Linked DNA regions of Homo sapiens. The protein of the gene in region 2 purifies or fractionates together with the protein of the main gene of each other region. This does not show direct contact. Each region holds a gene or a part of one and is shown on either strand. Other genes may lie near its edges.

What was found.
Region 1: the proteins of CDAN1 (region 2) and NASP purify together in Homo sapiens (affinity purification with mass spectrometry, with the first as the bait; one large-scale study listed by BioGRID). This does not show direct contact.
Region 3: the proteins of CDAN1 (region 2) and TLK2 purify together in Homo sapiens (affinity purification with mass spectrometry, with the first as the bait; one large-scale study listed by BioGRID). This does not show direct contact.

The regions. Positions count from the first base shown.
Region 1 is NC_000001.11:45,586,942-45,590,590, reverse strand, and holds part of NASP (nuclear autoantigenic sperm protein), read right to left. Parts: intron 1-3,649. UniProt on the Homo sapiens protein: Component of the histone chaperone network. Binds and stabilizes histone H3-H4 not bound to chromatin to maintain a soluble reservoir and modulate degradation by chaperone-mediated autophagy.
Region 2 is NC_000015.10:42,734,953-42,738,701, forward strand, and holds the start of CDAN1 (codanin-1), read right to left. Parts: upstream 2,177-3,749; 5' UTR 2,151-2,176; coding exon 2,061-2,150; coding exon of another isoform or gene 2,037-2,060; intron 1,829-2,036; coding exon 1,350-1,828; intron 1,130-1,349; coding exon of another isoform or gene 1,127-1,129; coding exon 923-1,126; intron 728-922; coding exon 558-727; intron 423-557; coding exon 309-422; intron 227-308; coding exon 148-226; intron 1-147. UniProt on the Homo sapiens protein: May act as a negative regulator of ASF1 in chromatin assembly.
Region 3 is NC_000017.11:62,593,743-62,597,391, reverse strand, and holds part of TLK2 (serine/threonine-protein kinase tousled-like 2), read right to left. Parts: intron 808-3,649; coding exon 718-807; intron 1-717. UniProt on the Homo sapiens protein: Serine/threonine-protein kinase involved in the process of chromatin assembly and probably also DNA replication, transcription, repair, and chromosome segregation. Phosphorylates the chromatin assembly factors ASF1A and ASF1B.

The DNA.
Region 1 (3,649 bases), on a different chromosome or scaffold from region 2:
TTATCAGTGATAAATTTCTTTTCTTTTTTTTTTTTTTTTTTGAGACAGAGTCTTGCTCTGTCGCCCAGGCTGGAGTGCCCTGGCACGATCTCCGGCTCACTGCAAGCTCCGCCTCCCGGGTTCACGCCATTCTCCTGCCTCAGCCTGGGCCTGGTGCCAGGCCGGTGCCTGTGCACCGGCCACCATGCCCGGCTAATTTTTTTGTATTTTTAGTAGAGACAGGGTTTCACCGTGTTAGCCAGGATGGTCTCGTCTCCTGACCTCGTGATCCACCTGCCTCGGCCTCCCAAAGTGCTGGGAATACAGGCGTGAGCCACCGCGCCCGGCCGATAAATTTATTTCTATTCTTGCTTAGCACAAGCCTAGACAAATAGAAAAGAGGGTGAACTAAGGCAGTACTTGTATAGTTGGAAAAAAAGATGAATTAAAGCAGTGTTTCTCAAATTTTAGTCTGTATGCAAACCATTTGGAGGAACGGTTATAACAGTTTGAGCTCCACCCCCTACAGTTTCTGAGTCAGAAGGTTTGAGGTAAGGTTGAAGAATCTGCATTTCTAACAACTGCCCAGGTGACACACTGCTGGTTTCTAGAACCATGCTCTGAGGACTACTGGATCAGAATAAAAATTATAAATGGATGTTCATGTCCTATCTGGGCAATAGGTATGTCTGATTCAGTTTTGTTTTGTTTTTGAGACAGTCCTTCTCTGTTGCCCAGGCTGGAGTGCAGTGGTATCATCTCAGCTCCCTGCAACCTCTGCCTTCTGGGTTCAAGCCATTCTCCTGCCTCAGCCTCCCAAGTAGCTGGGATTACAGGCGCCCACCACCACGCCTGGCTAATTTTTCTGTTTTTTACCAGAGATGGGGTTTCACCATGTTAGCCAGTCTGGTCTCGAGCTCCTGACCTCAAGTGATCCTCCCGCCTGGGCCTCCCAAAGTGCTGAGATTACAGGTGTGAGCCACTGCGCCCAGCCTGATCCAGTTATTTTTTAAAATGTTAATTCTAATAGTCACTACATTTACAACTATGAAGCTATGGCTTCATAGTTTTATGACGTTCATTATGAATTTTTAGAATGAGCATGAATCCAGAGAAGTACTAGAGGAAATGATAGGGAAATTACTTGGTAATTTGTTTGGAGAAGGCCGTTTTAAACCCAGAAACCAGACTGGGTGCAGTGGCTCTCTCCTGTAATCCCAACACTTTGTGAGGCCTAGGTAGGTGGACTGCTTGAGCTCAGGGGTTCAAAAACCAACCTGGGCAACACAGCGAGACCTATCTCTACCAAAAATAAAATGAGATGGGCATGGTGGTACATGCCTGTAGTCCCAGCTACTCCAGAGACTGATATGGGAAGATTGCTTGAGCCCAGGAGATAGAGGCTGCAGTGAGCTATGATCATACCACTATACTCTAGCCTGGGTGAGAGAGTAAGACCTTGTTTCAAATAAATAAACAAACAAACCAGAAACCATAGGATATTGACAGATTCTACTCCATCTAATTCATTTCACAAAAGGTTAACTTAGCAAATATACATAGAATCTTAGTCAACAGGATAAAAAAGCCCAATGGGAATAGATTAATGGATTTAATATAAACACTCACAAACAAACAAACAAACAAACAAACACTTGACCACCTGCTACTGCTCATTCTTTTGTTTTTGAGACGGAGTCTCGCACTGTTGCCCAGGCTGGAGTGCAGTGGCGCGATCTCGATCTCGGCTCACTGCAAGCTCCGCCTCCCGGGTTCACGCCATTCTCCTGCGTCAGCTTCTCAAGTAGCTGGGACTACATTTTTTTTTTGTATTTTTAGTAGAGATGGGGTTTCACCGTGTTAGCCAGGATGGTCTCGATCTCCTGACCTCGTGATCTGCCCACCTCGGCCTCCCAAAGTGCTGGATTACAGGTGTGAGCCACCGCGCCCGGCCGCTCATTCTTAAGAGAAACAAAAAAACTATACTTAGAAAGTATGTTTTACCCATCGAATAGTCAAAGATAGGGTTAAGGAGAAATTGTACTCCCATACATTGCTAACAGAAATTCAAGGCTAGGCTCACAGCTATAATCCCTGCACTTTGGAAGGCAGAAGGACTGTTTGAGGCTAGGAGTTTGAGACCAGGCTAAGCAGCAAAATGAGACCCCTTCTCTAGTTCAAAAAATTAATTTTAAAAAAAGAAGTGTAGCCTGGGCACGGTGGCTAACGCCTATAATCCCAGAACTTTGGAAAGGCAAGGTGAGTGGATCACCTGAGGTCAGGAGTTCGAGACCAGCCTGGCCAACATGGTAAAACCTCATTTCTACTAAAAATACAAAAATTAGCCAGGTGTGGTGGCGGGCGCCTGTAATCCCAACTACTTGGGAGGCTGAGGCAGGAGAATTGCTTGAACCCTGGAGGTGGAGACTGCGGTGAGCCTAGATCGCACCAGTGCACTCCAGCCTGAGCAACGGAGTTAGACTCTGAATGACTACAGTCATGCGCAACCACGCCTGGCTGATTTTTGTATTTTTAGTAGAGACGGGGTTTTGCCATGTCAGCCAGGCTGGTCTCGAACTCCTGGCTTCAAGTGATATGCCCGTGTTGGCTTCCCACAGTGTTGGGATTACCACGTGAGCCACACCACCTGGCCCTTTTTTTTTTGAGATGGAGTCTTGCTCTGAGGCTAGAGTGCAGTGGCACAATCTCGACTCACTGCAACCTCTGCCTCCCGGTTTCAAGCGATTACAGGACCCTGCTACCCATGCTCGGCTAATTTTTGTAAACTGTAGTCTCAGCTACTTGGGAGGCTGATGCACAAGAATCGCTTGCACAGGGGAGGCAGAAGTTGCAGTAAGCCAAGATCTGGCCACTACACTCCAGCTTGGGCAAGACAACAAGACTCTCTCTCCAAAAAATTAATTATATATATATATATATATATATATATGAAAAAACTCAAGACAAACCTCATAGCCTAGAAATGTTGAATTAACAAAATGTATGTAATCAATGCATAAAAGATATGTAGGTACTAGTCTTCTTCACTACCATAAAATACAAATTATAAAAAGTTAAAATTCATCAAAACACACAGACCATACACGGCACCATCCACAGTTGAGATATGTAAATGAACAAAGATGCAGTATTAAATCATAACTGCAGCCGGGCACGGTGGCTCACGCCGAGACCGGCTGATCACCTGAGGTCAGGAGTTCGAGATCACCCTGGCCAACATGGCAAAACCCCAAAAAATTAGCCAGGTGTGGTGGTACACACCTGCAGTCCCAGCTACTTGGGAGGCTGAGGCAAGAGACTTGCTTGAATCCGGGAGGGCGGAGGTTGCAGTGAGCAGAGATTGTGCCACTGCACTCCAGCCTGGGTGACAAAACTCCCTCTCAAAAAAAAAACAACAAAAAAAAACCAACTAAGAACTAGTTAGAAAGCTAAGAATGACAGGATTAATTTAGCATGTAGATATACATCACCTTAAACAATACTGCTTTAATGGCACGAGGGGACAAAAGCCAACCTAAGACTTTTTGCAGACGACAAAACTGTGGTCCAATATCACTACTGAAGCAATGAAGCTGCTATCAAAGCCAATTCTAAGCCAGGCGAGGTGATGCATGCCTGTAGTCCCAGCTACCCAGAAGGCTGAGATGGA
Region 2 (3,749 bases):
CTTAACACAAAATTAAAGAAAGATTATAGGTAGGAGAAGGTCCAGGACCACTGCCCCTGTGTTAAGCACCAGCATATATCCCAAGCAGCCAGAGAGCTAAGCAGATGATGAGAATGAGGCCCAAATGCCTCAGCCAGGGAAACTCACTGAAAGTGACACTCCAAAACCTGCACTGCAAAGAAGACACAATCGTGGATGCTTTGGAACAGTGGACTTTCCAGGGAATCTAGAAGGACAGTACCAAGCTGTCAGTTAAGAACGGTCCCGTTTCTAGACCCCATGTCTCAAAAGGAGGCTTGCTCACTGACCTAGGACAGCTGGACTTAGTTCAGGGTCGCTGTCCTTGGCAGTCACCATCCTCCGGGCAGTGAGGAGCTGAAAGACGAAGAAAAGCTCCAAGAAGAGGTTTGGTACCAGGTTCTCTAGATAGATACAAAAAGAAAGCCCATGGTATGGGCACCATTTGGAGCCAAGGCTCAGTTCCAAGTGCCTTACCAATTCTCTTACCCATAAGTTCTACAAGTGTCTCCACTCCCGCTCCCTCCGCTCTCACTCACCAGCAATGCACGAGGAGTAAACAAGGGCTACAAGCTCCAGGCGCTGGCGGGAAGACACTCTGGCAGGGTCTGCAGGTTCATCTGTGAGGCTTCCTGTCCGGCTGGGGAGGGGCGACCCCAATTCTGGGGTGGGACAGGTGGGGGTAGGTGACTGCTGCAGCTGCTTAGAGCTATGGAATAAAGAAATTTCATGAGCAGTCAGCTTGGCTTCCCTGCTACGGCCACACTCAGGTCACTCCAGAGAAGATACCAACAGCCCAGGAGACAAACCCAGAGTCCCCAAGAGGGAAATCAATTTCAGGGAAAACCCCTGAAGATCCCCCACAGCGAGGAAACCGATATCCCCAGGAGCGGCCAGGCCATACCGCTCCTTCCTGAGCATCTCTCGCTCCTCTTGCAGACTTCTGCACCCTGGGGGAAGGCCAAGGCCCCAAGGGCTAGTGTCCAGGGCTGAGGGTTGGGAACTGGGGACACAGCTGATTGGGGGTGAGGTGAAGCAGGTCTTGGGCTTGGAGAGTGACCGCTCTTCGCTCACCGGAGTTGGGTTGATCCTGCGAGAAGGCTTCGTCCTGCTGAGAGTAGCCACAGGTTTTTCTCAAATTCCTATCTTCAAACATCTCCCCTCCACCACCGCAACAGCTAGACCTCTTGCCAAAAAACCCCACAAAAACCCTCACCATCACCCCCAGCCTTCTACCCATCCTGGCGCTCCACTGCGGAGCGCCGAGCTCGAATGACTGACTCCCCAGAGCCTTCGTGGTACCCATCTCCTGCATGAGAGCTGAGTCTCACCCTGTAGGGCCGGGGGGAACCGAGCCTACGGGAGGGAACTCCTCCAGGTTGCTGAGGTTTGGCGGATCAGACAGCGTGAGGCTGGGGCGGCTGGGGCTGCCAGAGCCCCTAAGCCTCCGGCCCCCGGCTCCGGGCAGGCTCTCCCCGCTGACCCCCTCCTCCAGGCCGCGGCCTCCACGCTCGCGGGCCGGCCCCGGGCCCCGCCTCCTGCCCCCGCGGCGGGCCAGAGGGGCCTCGGCAGCGGTGCTCTGGGCCTCGGTCGGAGGGAAAAGCTGGCTGCGCGCCCCGCGGCTACCCCGCGGCGGGCCTCCCGGCCTCCCTGGCAAGGCTGCCGAGGCGCCCGGGGTCTTGGCGGGGGTCGGGGGCCCCTGCGGGAGGACGCGGCTGCTCTGCTCCCTCAGGAAGTTCAACAGGAACGGTACGAATTCTTTCCGCAGGGCCCGGAGTGAGCTCAGCGCGGCCGCCTCCCCAGCGTTATCCTAGGGCAGAAGCACAGGTGGAGGGGCGAGAGGGTCAGCCGCCGGCCCGCGGGCCGTGAGCAGCCGGGGCCGTAGGGCGCGCCTCGGGTGGGCGGCCCGGGCAGCGGCGCCCAGTTGGAGTGCACTCGGCCCGGCTGGCAGCCAGGCGCCCTAGAGGAAGGGGACTGGAGGGCTGGACTCCACTGCGGGAACCGGCTTCGAGTCAGACCTGGGGGCGTGTCACCGCTGTTACCTCCGAACCCTGGGTGCTGCGCGCGATCCACCGCACGACGGCTGCGACCGACACCTCTTCTCGCAGCAGCGACTCCAAAACGGCCGCCATCCCGGTCGGGGCGCTCTGGGGCGACTGCGCAGGCGCCGGCGCGCCGCGGGCGGCCAGGGAGGGGCGGGGCCGGCGGCGGGGAACGACCGTTGGGTCGCGGGATGGGGAGGGACCCGGCTGGCGGGGCGGGGCGGAGCCGGCTGTTGCCCAGACCCACGGAGTCAAGGCCTCGCTGAGTCCTCAACCCCGGCCGAGAGGCCGGTTGTTAGGAGGTGAAATGTGGATCACAGCGCCTGGGGAGGCCCACCTTGGCTGCCCGCCCTGGAGCGACCTGAAGGGAGGGATTCGAGCTGGGAGTGGGGCTGCCGCGGGTCGGACGCCCCTCTAGGGAGACCCAGGACCCGGGAGAGAGGTAGAGGGGAGCAGAGACAGCCACCAGCTTCTATCTTCTGCTCTAAGCACATTCTTTCACGAGTTTAAGTTTCCTAGATCCAACTGGCACCACCCCAGAGAAATTATAATCTAATCTTTCATTTTGACTTTGTTCTTCTCAAAGGCCGATTTTTCAATCCCTTGGCCGAGCAGTACCCATCGGCTTTTCAGCGCTCACCATCAACTGACCATTTAGGAAAGAATTATTTCTAGGAGGTTCTTAATAATCCCCAAGCCACAACCCTTAAAGTGCCTCGGGCCACCCTGCACACAGAATTGCTTGTATGTAGCTTTATTTACTTAAGTGGGTTTACATGAGGTTAATATTTCAACTACTTTGCAGTTTAGATGTCAGTAAGCATATCATGATTAGCTTCTGGGAGCTTGAGGTTTGTATTTTTGGGTTTGGTGTTTTTTGTTTTTGTTTTGTTTTTTTTGAGACAGGGTCTTGCTCTGTTGCCCAGGCTGGAGTGCAGTGGCGTGAGCACGGCTCACTGCAGCCTTGGCCTCCTGGGCTCAAGCAATCCTCCCGACTCAGCCTCCCTAGGGCTATAGCCCAGCTAATGTTTTGGCCGGGAGAGGGCAGCAGATCCAAAGTGCTGGGATTATAGGCGTGGGCCACCACGCCCGGCCTGAGTAATTTCTTAATCTCCTTTATTTAATTTTATTTTGAGATGGAGTCTCGCTCTGTCACCCCCGGGGCTGGAATGCAGTGGGAGGCAGAGGTGGGCGGATCACGAGGTCGAGAGATGGAGACCATCCTGGCCAACATGGTGAAACCGTGTCTCTAATAAAAATACAAAAATTAACTGGGCGTGGTGGCACGCGCCTGTAGTCCTAGCTACTGGGGAGGCTGAGGCAGGAGAATCGCTTGAACCTGGGAGGCGGAGGTTGCAGTGATCCAAGATCACGCCACTGCACTCCAGCCTGGGTGACAGAGCGAGACTCCATCTCAAAAACAAAACAAAACAAAAAAACCTGAGAGAGGATTTTGAAGGTTGCTGCTCAGTGACAAATCAAGCAAGGGAATCCAAGCGGAGAAAAACAGATGGCACGAACATTCCATGTCAAACCAAACCAGGAGGGGTGAGGCAGTGCCCTTGTGAATGCCTCCTGAGAGTTGCTCTGGTTCAAAGGAAGGTTACGGGCGGAAGGATGAGGGTGGGGGTGCAGGAATCTCTCTAGTGGCAGAAGGGGTATTTCCTATGGAGAAGGAAAAAGTACCTC
Region 3 (3,649 bases), on a different chromosome or scaffold from region 2:
CAAAATGTGGTATATCCACACAATGGAATATTATTTTGCCATAAAAAGGAATGAAGTACTGACACAGGCTACAAGGATGAAATTTGACAACACCATGGTAAGTGAAAGAAGCCAGTAATAAAAGTCCACATACTATATGATTCCATGCATATGAGGGTCCAGAATAGGAAATCTATAAAGATAAAACAGACAGATTAGGGCTAGGGCAGAGGGATGGAATGGTGGAATAGATGAATAGTAGTAAAAGGTATGATGGGGTTTGAGATGGTGAAAAAATTCTAAAATTGCCTCTGGTGGTTGCATGTATCTATGAATATGCTACAAACCACTAAACTGTATATTTTACATGTGTGAATCATACAGTATGTGAATTATAATTAAGATGTTTAAAAAAAAACAAAAATAAACAGGTGGTACATCAAAATTAGACACAGGAGGAATATCTACACCACGGAAACTGGCAAACACTATAAATTAGCCCTGTCTCTCTTCATACCAAGCTGGCTGTTAAACATTTACTGGCACACAAGTGCACATGTCCTTTGGCCTAGAGGTTTCTTGCTGATCCAAATCTGAATTTATGTTTGATCATTTGTCACAAATTACTTGGTTCCCTCAGAGGGTATGTCCTGGACCCAGAGTTCAGCTCTATTCCATGAACAATCAGCATTGCAAGAAAATAATATAACTGTTAAGGTAAAACAGCACAGCACTTACGAGTCAGTATCCAGTGAAAAGTAATCATACAGCTTAACTATTCTGGGATGATCCAGCTCTTTATGAATCCGGTATTCCCTACATGCATGCCTGTAAACAAAAGGGAAAATTAACAAGAAGGTATATTGGCCTGCCTTTTAGAACTCTTCAAAGATCCTCCTAAATATTCAATCATTTCTCTATTGTCTCCACATGTTAATTCCATTCAGGTCCATCTGGTCCCTCATCTGACTTTTCTCTTTGCTCATCCTATTTTCTCCACTGGAATCTACCAAGCCATTGAGAAAATAATAGGTGCTCTGGCTGGGCGTAGTGGCTCACGCCTGTAATCCCAGCACTTTGGGAGGCCGAGGCAGGTGGATCACGAGGTCAAGAGATGGAGACCATCCTGGCCAACATGGTGAAACCCCGTCTCTACTAAAAATATAAAACTTAGCTGGGCGTAGTGGTGCGCACCTGTGGTCCCAGCTACTCGGGAGGCTGAGGTAGGAGTCACTTGAACCCAGGAGTTGGAGGATGCAGTGAGCTGAGGTCGCGCCACTGCACTCCAGCCTGGTGACAGAGCGAGACTCTATCTCCAAAAATAAAATAAAATAAAATAACAGGTGCTCAAATATTTGTTAAGTGAATGGATGTCAACCCTTTTCATCCCTTTCAAGTTCATTCTATGATAATCACACCTCTTTTCCACGTATACTCAAGTATCATAGATTTTAAAATAACAAGGACGGTTATTTTCCCCCCTCCTCTAAAGCTGATACATCATATCTGTAAATGTATATATGCTCGGGTAACATCAAAGGGGTCATTTTTAGCATGTAAACCCCTTAGGTTAAAGCATTATCTGTTACATAAATCAATTAGCAGTACTTTGTATTTTTTGTTTTTAAATCCTTCTTACAAAAACAATTTAAGTGCTATTAGCTTTACTTTATTCTAATAAAATATGAAATGTGAAATTATGGAACCCCAGTTTTCTTAGAATGGCGAATTTGATACAGTCATCCACTGCAGAACAACCCTTCGGTCAATGATGCTAAGCCACACATATGACGGGGTCCCATAAGAGTATAACAGAGCTTCCCATGAACTGAGGAAGAAAAAAAAAAAAAAAGTACAACAGAGGTGAAAAATTCCTATCACCTGGTAACCCAGCAGTCATGATGTCACCACACAATGCATTACTCGCGCTTGTGGTGATGCTGGTGTAAACAAACCTACTGTGCTGCCAGCCATATTAAAGTCTAGCACCTAACAATTATCTACAGTATATAACACTTGATAATGATAATAAATGAATACATTATTGGTTTATGTATTTACTATACAGCAGGCCCTTAAATAACATCATTTTGTTATAACGCTGATTTAAAAAAAAAAAAAAAAAAAAAGGGGGCCAGGCACGGCAGCTCATGCCTGTAATCCCAGGACTTTGGGAGGCCAAGGCGGGTGGATCACCTGAGGTCGCTGGATCACCTGAGGTCAGGAGTTCGAGACCAGCCTGACCCAACATGGTGAAACCCCGTCTCTACTAAAAATACAAAAATTAGCTGGCCGTGGTGGTGGCCACCTGTAATCCCCACTACTCAAGAGGCTGAAGCAGGAGAATCACTTGAACCTGGGAGGTGGAGGTTGCAGTGAGGCGAGACTGCGCCATGGCACTCTAGCCTGGGTGATAAAGTTAGACTCCGTCTCAAAAAAAAAATCAATTCCTGGTCGGCACCACTGTCCATGTGGAGTCTGTTTGTTCTTCCCCTATCTGTGTGGGTTTTCTCAGGTTATTCTGCTTTCCTCCCACATCCCAAAGGCACATGTGTTGGGTTCACCGGCATACCCACATGGGGTGTGTGTGTGTGTGTGTGTGTGTGTGTGTGTGTGTGTGTGTACCCGCCCTGCAATGGGATGGCATCCTGTCTAGGGTGGCTCCCACCTTGCCCCTGAGCTGCTGATATAGGCTCTGGCCACCCTCAACCCTGAGTGGGGAATGAGTGGGTAAATGTTACCTTGTTTCTATTAAACTTTCTTAAATGTATATAAAGCTCATATACATTTCAACGTTTAGTATTAGAAGTGTTTTAGTCTTTATTTAGAAGCTGGGTAATGTTTTTGTGACCAGGAATATGCCACAGGAACTTAACTCTTGTTTATGTCAATTAGCCTATGGTAAAATTGGTTTTGTTACACCTTGTTTCCCTTAAAGTTGTAGTTTCCAAGAACCTATCACTGCTACTAAGTGAGGGCTTATGTACTGCACTTTTTTTGTTTTTGAGATGGAGTCTCGCTCTGTTGCCAAGGCTGGAGTGCAGTGGCGCGATCACAGCTCACTGTGGTCTTTGCCTTCCAGGTTCAAGCGATTCTCCTGCCTCAGCCTCCCAACTAGCTGGGATTACAGGCACATCCCAGCACGCCCAGCTAATTTTTGTATTTTTAGTAGAGAGGGGGTTTTGCCATGTTGGCCAGGTTGATCTTGAACTCCTGACTTCAAGTGATCCGCCTGCCATGGCCTCCCAAAGTGCTGGGATTACAGGCATGAGCCACGGCACCTGGCCTGCACTGTACTTTTTAATTATTTAAATTTTAGAGAGCAGGGGCGGTGGCTAACGGCTGTAATCCCAGCACTTTGGGAGGCTGAGGCAGGCGGATCACTTGAGGTCAGGAGTTTGAGGCCAGCCTGGCCACCATGGAGAAACTGCGTCTCTACTAAATATACAAAAAGCAGCAGGGAGCGGTGGTGTGCACCTGTAATCCCAGCTATTTGGGAGGCTGGGGCAGGAGAGACGCTTGAACCCAGGAGGCAGAGGTTGAAGTAAGCTGAGATAACACCACTGCACTCCAGCCTGGGCGACAGAGTGAGACTCCATCTCAAAAAAAAAAAAAAAAAAATTTAGAGTGTACCACTTCTACTTATTAAAAAAAAAAAATTAACTACAAA